Homo sapiens: one gene and its partner. The protein of the gene in region 1 interacts with the protein of each later gene in a pairwise test. Each region holds a gene or a part of one and is shown on either strand. Other genes may lie near its edges.

Region 1 (3,959 bases):
AAGTTAGCAAGATGGCAGCTCCTTTTCTCTACAGTAACGGCCTCCTGTGCTGGAGGCAAGGCCAATGACAGCAACAGCCAACACCATGATTGGAACTGGCTTTCAGAGTGTAGGCTCTGCCTCATGTCATCTTTTTCACTGAACCTTCTCAGGCTGAGAGGGGTGAAGAGGTTATTTATTTCCTGAAGCTTACCCAGATCCCATTGAAGGGGAGGTTGCCTCAGTTTCTCCCTTTATTGTACCTAACATTTGGACTCTAGTTTGAGGAAGGAGAGGATATGGGAAGGAAGTGTAGACCATGGAGGGAGGGATGTAAGGAAGCCCATATGAAGACCAAGGATGCCTTTGGACAGAACTTTGGGGTCAGCAGCCTCTCTCATCCCCCCTCACAAACCTTGGTTCCTTGTGTCACTCTAGGCAGGAAAAATACCCAGGAGGAGGCTAGTATCAGAAGCTAGAGCCTCAGTAAGGCACAGATTCAGCTGGGGCAGCAGTTTAGGCATGAAAATCTCATGAAAATCATGTTAAACCAAAAACATGCTTTAATGCCAGGCAAGAGCTACACAGTCAACTGATTTACGGGCCACTCCATAGGCTATGATTTATAAATTATATATTATTAAATCCACCGTGGGCATACAGATGGGATGGGACAGCACCCCCAGCTCCCTCCCACTCTGAATGATGTATGAACAGTTGAGCACTCTGTAGAATCCTTCAGGTCGTAAGCCACTTTATTCCAGTCCCTTGAACATCACAGGCTGGTTTTATTTGGGACAGAACAGGTTTTATTTCCAAAGGTCCCTGAACACAGCAATGACAATGAACAGCCCAGCAGAGGAGTGACATAAACCTTGAGGCATGCAGTCTTCTGGGTGCTGTGGAGTCCCTTGGCCAAACTTGAGTGCACTGGATTCGACATACAAAGACCTTCCTGGGAAGGAGAAGGAGAAAAACAACCTCCGAGAAAATACAGACAGGGTCAGTGGCAGGCCAGGACAGGGACTATTTCTATACATTCTGGAAGTGTCGGCATTCATCAGCCTGCATGTGGCTCACTTTTCTTTCTGGAATAGCCGGAGACCTCTACTCCTCACTCCAGCTCTAGGTTCCAAGGAACAGAGTGGGTCTGGCTCAGCGAGATGTCATGACTAAGGGCAGAGCCCAGGCAGGTTTCTCAAAACATTAACTGATTCCACCTACCAAAGGAGAATCAAAGGAAGGAACTAGGACTTCGATTCAGAGCAGGGAAAAGTGGGATGCAGCTCCTGAGCACTGCCAATAGGGCATGCTAGGTCTCCTCACCCAGTCTGCCTTCTGTGTCTTAGGTTAATTCGCTATTTTCCAAACACAGATTTTAACACTTGGCCATGGAGGAATTTGGCAAGTTTTGGTACAGAACCACTGTGAGGAACTGACCCCTGGAGGAAGACTAGGATTATTTTTACAGAGTCTAGGTCTCAAAATTTCACCCTATGGATTTGGTTCTTTTTGGTCTACCATACAAATTTGGATTTCTGCTGCCAATTACAGCAGACTCAAGTCATATATAAAAACCTGGAGGTTAGCATGTCTAGTCACATTTTTCTCCTGGTCATGATGTCTCTCTTTCTGTGGTTCCTCTTCTTTGGCAAGTGGCTTGGCAGCAAATATACCCACTAGGGACCTCTCTGCCTTCTCTTAGTGGCAAGTTCCCCATCAACAACCTTGAGAATTTGGGCCTCCCTTTGCTAACTACTTGCAAGAGTATGACTCGCCTGTAACCAGCAAATTTTTACTCTTAGCTTTCAATTCAAATTAGTGTGTCTGAGGTCACCAGACCAAACAGCAACTCAGACTTGTGCTGTCACTTCTGGAAATAGAAGTCTGCATTCAAAGAGCACGGCAATGGAAAATACTTTTGGATTCTCCATAGGGGGGCCTTGGAAACCACAGACACACTTGCCCATGTCTTTATGATGAATTTGATGACTGCCCAACCTCTGATTCTTTAACAGGGGCAGGGAAACTGAATATTCCAGACCTGGCTCCCTAACCATGCACATAGATTAAACCACTGGGAAGTTCCAAGAATGTATGTGATGTTTTTTCGAGTCTGCAGAGTATTGATCTGCTCAGAAAAGCACCATGCCGCCAGTCTAATGCTGTCAATGGGCTGCTGGGCCTGAGAGGGAAACCACCCTACTGGTCCCCTGTCATACATGTTAACATTCCTGTGCTCCAATTGTCCTGTCCCACTACCACCTGCTCTGCATCTGCCCTCTAGGCATGGCCACTCTGGAAATGCATTCAAAATTAAAGTTGGGCCCTAGTCAGGGTTACTTTGTATTTTTATGGAATATATAAAATATACTTGTCGATTGGTACATTTGTGCAAAGACAGATATGACTTCCAAACAAGACAGACATTCATTATAGTTGTCTTACTTCACAATAAGCTACTAAAAACAGTCTTCTGGAATAAGATTGTATTAGTGCTCACTAAACATGCATTTCATTTAAACAAGGCAAAACACTTAATTTGGTCTGCATTACCCAATATGTTATATACAGCCGTCTTTTTATTTTATCACAATAGGCAACAAGATGGGTCTGGTTTTGGAATATGTTACCATTTGTGTTTAATTTCCAAAGACACGCATATTAGCTCAACTAGTGTAAACCTGTGAAAAAATAGCTGAGCCATCTTTTTCCTCTCCTCTGTTAATTTATCTTGAAATGTTCACAGCTTAGAAACTACAGCCTGCTGGGGAAGAGAGGGGAGTGGGCCCCCATGGGGAAATGTCCCAGCTCGCTGGAATAGCCTCACCCCAGAGGGTAACTTGTTCTTGGGGAATCCAGCATCCGGTGCCATCCATCACCCCTACGGCACGTGTGACAACAGATTCAGGTGGGGAGTTTTGTCTTTCAAACAAAAGCCCCTTGAAGCTTGCAATAGAATCACAGGACTGGATGGGTTTCCCTTCTTTTGCCCCAACCCCCGAGTCTTACGTTTTAGAACAGAGACATTAGAATAAAAAAAAATAATAGTAACGATTAAAAATCATCAAACAATGAACACCACGAAGTCTGTCCATGCTCTCCACAAGCACACTGGGGCTCTGGGCATTCCCACGAAGCATCCACGACAAAAGAAGCTGAAGGCGTCACGGAGGAAGGCGCATCAGACCGCACAGGGGACGGCATCACCATTGATATTGTTTGGCAAAAAAAAAAAAAAATTGTTAAAAAGAAGAATCAAAAGGGAACACAAGCAGCTCTACAATTCGATTGGTGGGCGCAGGGCTCAGAACTGGCCGGCACTGCTCGGGTCGCACTGCAGGAGGCGCACAATGGACGGGTCGCTTTTGGCTCCTCGGATGAACTCTTCCAGGGAGAGTTTTCCTAGGAAGCAAGAGGACAGGTGAGTGGTGGCTGGTGGCAGCTGCATGAGCTTACACCCTTCCCACTACTGCGTGCTGGGCAGTGTCGATTCACCTGCCTGCAGCCTCACTGCCACTGTGACACACAGCACTCACCTGTCCCGGGGAAGAGCCCAGTGGAATCTCCAGGAACACTGCTGCCTCATTCACCATGGCATTGCCAGCACTTAGGACAGTACATGTGGCAATCAAACGCCGCTGCCTGAGAGCCCACTGTGTGCCCGGCCCTGGGCCCGGGACTGGGGAGAGGGTGGTGGATGATGCTGACTTGGTCCCTGACCTCCTGGCTCCAGGCGCCCTGGAGAGGCTCACTCAGCATTTGTAAAGCAAGTGGCCCTCCTGCATTTATGAGAATGAGCTGGGCCCTGGCAGCACCCGGTTGGTTCCCATAATGTTCCCTGGAGCCTTCTGAGCCACTTCGTGTTCTTCAGGCCACTCTGTGTTCTTAGGTTTGCTGCAAGAGCCCATCCTATCTTGGGGAAGAAGCCGTGGACGTAAGTGTTTGTTCATACACCACGGGAAGACAGCTGTGCCTCC
Region 2 (7,763 bases), on another chromosome or scaffold:
CCAGCTTTCAGGTTCAGTGTAACATGGGGAGTGGGTGGTCCCCTGCCCTCCAGAGGCCATGTAGCCTGCTGACCCCCAAGCCTGCCTGTTCCTCAGAAACACCTGGCAAATTTAAAATACAAAAACAAATGGATTTCCAGGCCCACACGCCAGCTCTGCTGAATAAGAATCTCCTAGGTAGGTACCTGGAAATCCATACTTTTAATAAGTTTCCAAGGTGACAGAGATGCAAACTGTCCACAGACCCGTGTGGGAGACCCACTGATTGTAGTGCATGCCGTATGTCCACATAAACCAACCCAGACTGAGAGATGTTAGCACTAAAGATTATGGGGTGGAGGCCACCTGGTGAACCCGTTCTTGTATTTCATAGACCTCCTCTGTTGGGACAGCTCCCCTGGGACCCAGTGCCAGTCCTGGATCTATTTCTTCACATCCCAGTCCTCAGTTTATCCTCCAAGGGGCAGTAGATCAGCTCTCCACACCCTCCCCATAAATAACTTTGATATTTTTTGAGGCCTGCTCTGAGGTCTTCCTTTTTAGCTTGCTTATTTCTGTCAAAGGAACTCTCCATTTCTTCAGCCTCATCGGGATGTTTGCCCCGCCATATTTTGGAATAAGCCAAATGATGGGCCGAGGGCTGCAGGAAAGAGTAGGTCAGTGAGAGCAGAGGTTTTCGTCAATGTGCTTAGAAGCTGGTTGCATTAACCCAAGTGCCAGCATTGGCACTCCCAGAGGTGACCTATGGGGGTGGGGATGGGAATGGGTGGGACTGGTACCAGCCTAAAGTGTATAACGGGTAGGCTGCTTCTCTAGCGTACGTGATCGGAGACCAGAGGATTGAAAACCCTAGTGCAGAATCTCAGCACACTGATGAGGATGAAAATAGCCTCCCATTCCACTCCTCCTGCTGCGCACGAGGCTGGGGCATCTTGCAGGGCGCGTGTCATGGAGCAGCGCACCCAGGCAGAGAGACAGACTTGCTCTCGGGGCCTCGCCAGTGCAGGGAATCACACCTGCTCACAAGCCTGGATGCCAGAATGTGGGTTTCCCTCTGGCCCACGGGCTCCCTGAGCTGTGGTTTCCGTTTAAGCACACGGGCTCCGGCCGGCAGGTGGGAACAGAAGAAGCACGGGCCAGGGCAGAGGACAATCACCCGTGAGGCTGAAGAAGCACAAGCTGCAAGGCCCCTCCCTTTCACAGGCTCCTCTCACAGCCTTTCCTTTCCCATTTAGATAGTCACTTCTCTACTCAGGACTTCATATTATTTTCTTCAACTGTGTAAGCATCAAGCCTTGTAAACCTGGCACTTCCCCGGCCTGGTGAACTCACCGTTGCGTACAATCTTCCTTTACTGTTCATGGCAACGAAGAGGGCACTTCTCACTCCAAAGAGACTCACCACGCCTCGCTCCACAGTGGAAATTTCCAGCAGGCCTGACAAGGAAAGGGGGGCCACATTACCTAAGGCTTGTGCAAATCAGAGTGGGAACTTGAGCCGACAAGGGCATCTCAGTCCATCCCCCTTCTCCTAGAAAGCCAGACTCTCCATTGCCCCATCCATGATCCCTCTAACTCTAGGAGACCCTGGCTGCTGGACTCATCGAGTGCTGCCATTGTGCTGTTAGAAATCCAGTTCTGCAAGGGAAGGTTCTGATAGCAGAGTTAGGGGCTGCAGTGACCACTTAGCTATCTGTTTAAGATGAGCTTTGAATCTGGGCTTTCAGTGACATAATTACTTGAGGTCCTTGACTTGAGTAAAAAAATAAATTCTGATTCTTCTTCTTCTTCTTAATGTGTACTCTACATGTTTCAACAAATCTCAACCCACTTAATCTTGAAAACACAGCAGCCACACCATAGCTGATGGCTTTCTTGGATCCTGCAGCCCCCATCCTTTCTTGGATAGGAGACTAACCATACAGCAAGCTGGCAGCTTGCAGGCAGCTTGCAGGATAAGAACCTGGGGACAGAGGGAGCCGCTGAAATAAAAAGAAGGATGTGCTTCAGTTGGACATTTTGCAATTGAATTTCCCTTCCTTCTCCAAGAAAGAAGCTGAATAAAAATGAGCTTGTGTCAAATTTGATCCAAGTATACTAACTGATTCTCCCTACCCAGGCCTTGGGGGCTTCCCAGACTAATGGTTCCTAATGGTCTTACAAGGCATCAGATGGGCCAGTAATGCTGAAATAGTTAGTGCCACTGAGGATCTAACCAAGGCGATGGCAAAGAACACCAGGATGCTTGGACCGCAGTATATTGAGCTTGCACCCAGGCAGGGTCACGTGGAATCATCTAAGTGGTGAGCAGCATTTCTGCCCCCTTTATCGTGCATCCTGTCCGCTAGAGCAGGGCCCCTTCACCTTTTAGCCCTGCATGAGCCCAAACCCCCAAGCGTCCCGACTGGCTGCAGCTGGCACTCACTGTAGGGGTTCTCCTCGTGGGTCCCGCTGATCCGGCCGTCGGGGAGCACCTGGAGGTGAAAGCCGATGCCCACGTTGCAGTAGAGCCTCCGCTGCCGCTTGATCCCCACCAAATAGCCACTTTCCCAGTTCACCCCGGCAATCTCTCCAGCTAGCCCGGCGCGAGACCTGGACAGCAGGGTGCCCCAGCCCCTCGAGTCCAGCAGCGTGTTGTTGGCACGGGTGCCTGCAGGCGAGGGCACCACCATGCCCACTAGGATGCCTAGGAAGACGAGAGCCCACAGCGTGCCCTGCAGACGTCCTGCTCCCCGGGACATAGTGATGAACAGTTTCTGTCCCAGGGCCATCCACCTTGCCTCTCAGGCACGTGGTCAGAATTAATGGCCCTAAAAATACCGCCCTTCTTGTTTTTCTCCCTCCGGCATGGCGGCAGGGGCTTATTTTTGGAAGGCAGATGAAGGCTGCTGACATGAAACCAAAGCCTCCATCGGGCACTCGGGTTGAGAGCAGAGGGACCCAGGCTGAGCCGCGGCCGGTAGAGACCATGGCTCGGGGACGCTCTCTAGCTCGCCCGCTTGCTCCGTCCCTAGTTGATGATATTTGATTTGACCTATCTTTATAGTTGCTTCAGCAGCCCGGCCCTCCCCTCCACCCATCATCGCCCTGACGTCAACCCGCCCAGCTCACTTATCCAGGGCTGTAACATTAACCTGCTCTTGGGCCTGGCTGCCTCCCCAGACCCCCATCACCCTCCACACTCCCCAGGGGTTCTGGGAGCCACTGTCATTCCAACTATGAGGCAGGAATGAAGTGAGCAGGGAGCATCTCTGGGGGAGGGGGGAGCTGGCTGGGGGCCCAGGGAAAGAGAGAGGCGAGAGGCCACCCAGGACCCATATTGGGCAGAAGTTCTTTGCCTGGCAGCGCTGGCTTCCTTATTTAGAGGGCAATAGGTAGAGGCAGGGATGGGAAAAGGCTTGTGGTAGTGATGACCGTAGCCTCAAGTCACCCTTGAGATCTTTTCATGGAAACAGCTCATGGTGGAGGGGAACACTGAAAGGCCAAACCCTTTCAGCAGGAGGGCACAGACATTCTCAGGGGGTGGGGATGGGGGTTGTTCAAGGAGCTTTAAGATTGTGGAGGGAAGGAGGGCAAGGGCAAGGTTTGCCTGCTCACTGTCCTGGTCCCGACATTCACCTGGGGTGGAAGTTGTGTCTGGCCTTTGACACAGCCCCCTGGCCATTCTCCCTGGATTTATCCCTGGCATGTGACTGATATTATTCCCATTTCACAGATGAGGAAGTTGAGGCTTAGAGAGGATAAATGACCTGCCCGAGTTACCATAGCTAATAAGTAGCAAAGCCAGAACTTCTAAGGTGTGCCTGAGTCTAAAGCCTGTGCATGTCTAATGCTTGCAGTAGAAGTTGGCTGGCCCATAGAGTCTGTTTAGCTCCTTAAATGCCAATAGCACATCACAGAGTTATTTCAGTAGCATAAAATGATTTATTTCTTAAAAAAAACTTGAGTGTCTTTGATGTACATGAGAACTTCTATATTTGCAGATAACTTTTGCTGGGCTGATATTACACTCAGAAACTAGTAAAAATATTTCTGCCAGGAAGTTATTCCTACACTGATTTATCTTATTCCCATATTACTTTTAAATAGATTACATGTCTAACTGAAGTGAGAAAAAAAATGTAAAGCTACCAGAAAACTCACTGCACAAATTTCTATACAATATAAGACAGAACTATTAATACGTCTCTGAGGGTGAATAAGTTAACAAGGGTCGCTGGGGAATTGAATTAACTTGAGTTAAAAATCCTGTTTCTTGTACTTCAATCCAGGCCTTAATCTGTTGGTGAGACATTAGCACTGATTTTGCCGGGATTGGAGAGAGTATGTGTGGGGTGATGACAGTGGCATACAGATGGATTTGAGTGTCCTGAGCAGTAGAGCTGGTCCCAGCAGGCAGCTCCCTTAGCCACACTCTACACCCACATTGCAGGCTGCAGGCAGCCTGGAAAAGCTCCTGGGGTGAGTTCCATGGCCCAAGGACTCTACTGAGGCACCACCGCCTTCCCTCTGATTCTAAACCTTCTGCTGTGCCCTGGGTCCCAGCCTCTGGTCTGTGGCTTCTACCTGCCTTCTCTCTGCCCTTCTGCCTCGTTCACTGGGTTCGATGCTTTGGTTCAAATTTCTGTCAAGCCATGTGTTTAGTGTTGCCCTAGACATGCCTTCTGAAATCCTGTGAAGCCCAGATGTCTGTCTTTACCCTCAGCTGGTAAACTGAATGGGGAGGGACATAGGCACCACTTGTTCCTACTGTCACCACGGCCCCCTGACTTCCCCATTGGCTTCCTCTCCCTTCCACTGCCGTTGTCCCATACCCAATCTCATCATCACCAGCACTGCCATTTCCCATGAGGAAAGATGATGCCTTATAGGCTCAGATTGAGTCTACTATGTAGGCCTTTGTTGGAAAACTGTTTTTAAAAATCCTTCTGCAAAGTAAAAGGTTCATGAATAATCCGAAGACAAAGTTGTCAACAAAAAGAACTTCACTTTGGATTTCCAGCTGGGTTTCATATAGTTAAGCTTTCATGGATGCAAGAGCAGTGGGGACACTTTCTCAGTGATGTTGTTTGGAATCTTGTGTTAATTATGCTGGTGGTCCTCACTTAGGGAAGAGACAGTCCAGAAACATGTTGGATGGTAAGGAGAAGTCAGTCTGAAGTTAACACTTGCCTTGGATAATCGGAGAGGTGCTCACCAGCAGAGCTCAGAATCTCTGTGGAATTTCTTGGAACCCATCCACTTTGGGACTGCCTTAGGAGAGAGATTAAACTATAACAAGGTCCATGTCATATACCAATAAAAATGGTAACGCTCCTTAGATTCATCTCTTCCTGGATTCCTCTCTGTGCAGAGGTTCTGGTTGATGTCTCATAAAGCAATGGGCTTTGGAATGGGGACACCTGGATTTGAATCTCAACTCCACCATTTAGTAGCTGTGTGACCTTAGGAAAGTTCTGGACCTCTCTGAGCTTATTTTGTCATCTGCAAAATGATATCATTACTTCCTAAGGTTGTTACAGTGACTAGCAATAATACATACAACTGGCCAGTGCAGAGCGCAGTATAGCTATTTCCCAGAAATTTCCCTGAAACACATTGAAAATCTCTCACCCAATTAAAGAGGACAAACCCAAAGTGAGAAAGACCATCTCTCATCTCACGGTGTGGGAGAGACACGTGGGCTTCCAGTTCTTCATTGCCATCCGCCACAGCATATGTTGTGATGGCTGCTAACATATGCAGAAGCAGGCAGCCCAGATTCCTCAAATGTTCTGAAAACCAGTGAGAGCCTTGGTGTCGTCCCCTGTTAAATTTAAAACTTAAGTAATTCATGCTATTAAAAAGCCTGGGTCTTATTTTTATCGGGTGATGCGATGAGGCCCTGTTCTGAATGTACCTCCCCTGCCTGTCTCTATAGCAACTTTACTGTGCTCATATAGCCATATATTTTTCCTGAAGGCTAATTAGGTTGACAACTGCTAGGTCTTCTTGGCTTACCAGATTTGCACTTGACCCTTCTCTTGGGGCTTAGGGACCCCTATGGATGTGAAGTGATAGAGAAAAGAGTAACAGGTGGAAGAGGCCTCTCTCCATGGACCCCTCTTGCAAATAGTTGGCCAACAGCCTTTGGGGATTGTCAATCACTCTCGCTGGATGAGCCAAGATCCAGTGGAGGTGAGTGGGAAAATACGTTAATGTCTATCTCCTCCCACAACAGGGTCCTTGTCCCCAAGGGGGATACCACAAAATACAGATTTGTCAGATTTGGCAATGCTTAGCCACACCAACCTTCCGCATCATCTGCATGGCAGAACTCCCTCCGTCACATCAGGTGGTTGCTCTCTGTGACTGCTGTGTGTTACATAATCAGGATCAAATGCCTGATGGGTGACCAAAAGGGAAAGCACATAAAACTCAGATGAGCCTCATCCACGTAGATTGTGAAAAGCTGTGCTTACTTGTACTTTTTACATTTGGTTTTGAAAAACTAGCATTTGCCTTTTTCTATAGATAATTTGGAAAATGTGGAAAATGATAAGGTGGAAAACAAAATAGCTGTTTGTGCTTAGTGTCTTTGTCTCTTTTGTCTCAAAGTCTGTCTTTGTGTGAGCTTGGCACAGCGGCCTTGAAGCCTCCCTGTATCTCCTCCCCATCTTGCTCAGACAGGCAGCTCTGCACCTATCCCTGGTTTTTTTAGTGGTAGAGATTGCTCACAGGATTTAATCGGCATGAGATGGACATGTGTAGAGATGAGGATCGAGGAAGGATTCCTGCCCTAGGCCTGAGCAAAGAGGGACATTTGCAGCTCATAAACTTGCTACATGAGGGAGAATTCAAGAGAAACAGTTTCAACTGATCAACAGTGTCCAGGTTGGACTTCCGCAAAGACAAGGCAGCCATTATCTTGCTAGCTATTCCCTGGGGAAACCTAAACTTTGTACTTTCCTAGTAGAACTCAACTTTTCCCAGGCCTCACCCACTTACACAGTGGGAGCCATTAACAGTTATAATCCACATTTCCCTAGTTCTTGCTTCTTCCAACTCATGTGGAACTTCACCCCACTACAAACCACCCCCAAGATATTTCTGCAGTTTCAGAGCATGTCTCACATATGTTCACGAGCATGTGACTGCTTCTGCCTGGGCACATTGCCAGGCACCTGCGTGGATCTCCCTGTTCTCCAGCCTTTCCACCTCCTGCTGGGCAGCCCGGGGGTGTTCCCTTTCTCACTATAGCTCAGCACCTGAAGCCCTCAAGGAGCCAGAACTGCTTTATGTTCTGTTTCAAAGCCAGGAAGAATACCTTAGTCCCCGTCTTCATGTTATACCTATTAAGGAAATACCTGGCCAGTACTACTCATGCCCTGGCAATCTGCTGATTTGAAGTTCTTTTCAGACTCCTTGCCCTGCAAAGGACTCAGTCTTGTTATGGGTTAAGCTGATCAGGTGGGATTCCCATTTCCTTCCATGTGGATTATTTTTCTGGAGGCCCCTCAACCCCTCAGACAAATACACTTCTGCTGGGGCCGGCCTATCTGCATTGTCTATATGTGTCTGAATCCTGGCTTGAGTTCAGACTGGAGACCCTGCCCCACTCCCAGAGACCCCTACAATGGGGAGGGAAGGAGCCCCTGAACACGCAGCTTTGTGGTCTGGTTGGTCACCAAGTATTTGCAGAGTTTTCTGGGAGAAAGATTCTCCTCTCCACACTAGCAGTCATCTTCTTGCGTTAAAGTGCTTCTTGATCTATCCCTTCAATCT

Evidence for each region. The genes of interacting proteins can lie anywhere in the genome.
Region 2: the proteins of NCALD (region 1) and FGF6 interact in binary tests that used the Homo sapiens proteins (3 or more experiments, as listed by UniProt).

What each region holds. Positions count from the first base shown.
Region 1 is NC_000008.11:101,686,023-101,689,981, forward strand, and holds the end of NCALD (neurocalcin-delta), read right to left. Parts: intron 3,385-3,959; coding exon 3,287-3,384; 3' UTR 520-3,286; downstream 1-519. UniProt on the Homo sapiens protein: May be involved in the calcium-dependent regulation of rhodopsin phosphorylation. Binds three calcium ions.
Region 2 is NC_000012.12:4,442,801-4,450,563, forward strand, and holds the start of FGF6 (fibroblast growth factor 6 precursor), read right to left. Parts: upstream 3,016-7,763; 5' UTR 2,771-3,015; coding exon 2,425-2,770; intron 1,437-2,424; coding exon 1,333-1,436; intron 1-1,332. UniProt on the Homo sapiens protein: Plays an important role in the regulation of cell proliferation, cell differentiation, angiogenesis and myogenesis, and is required for normal muscle regeneration.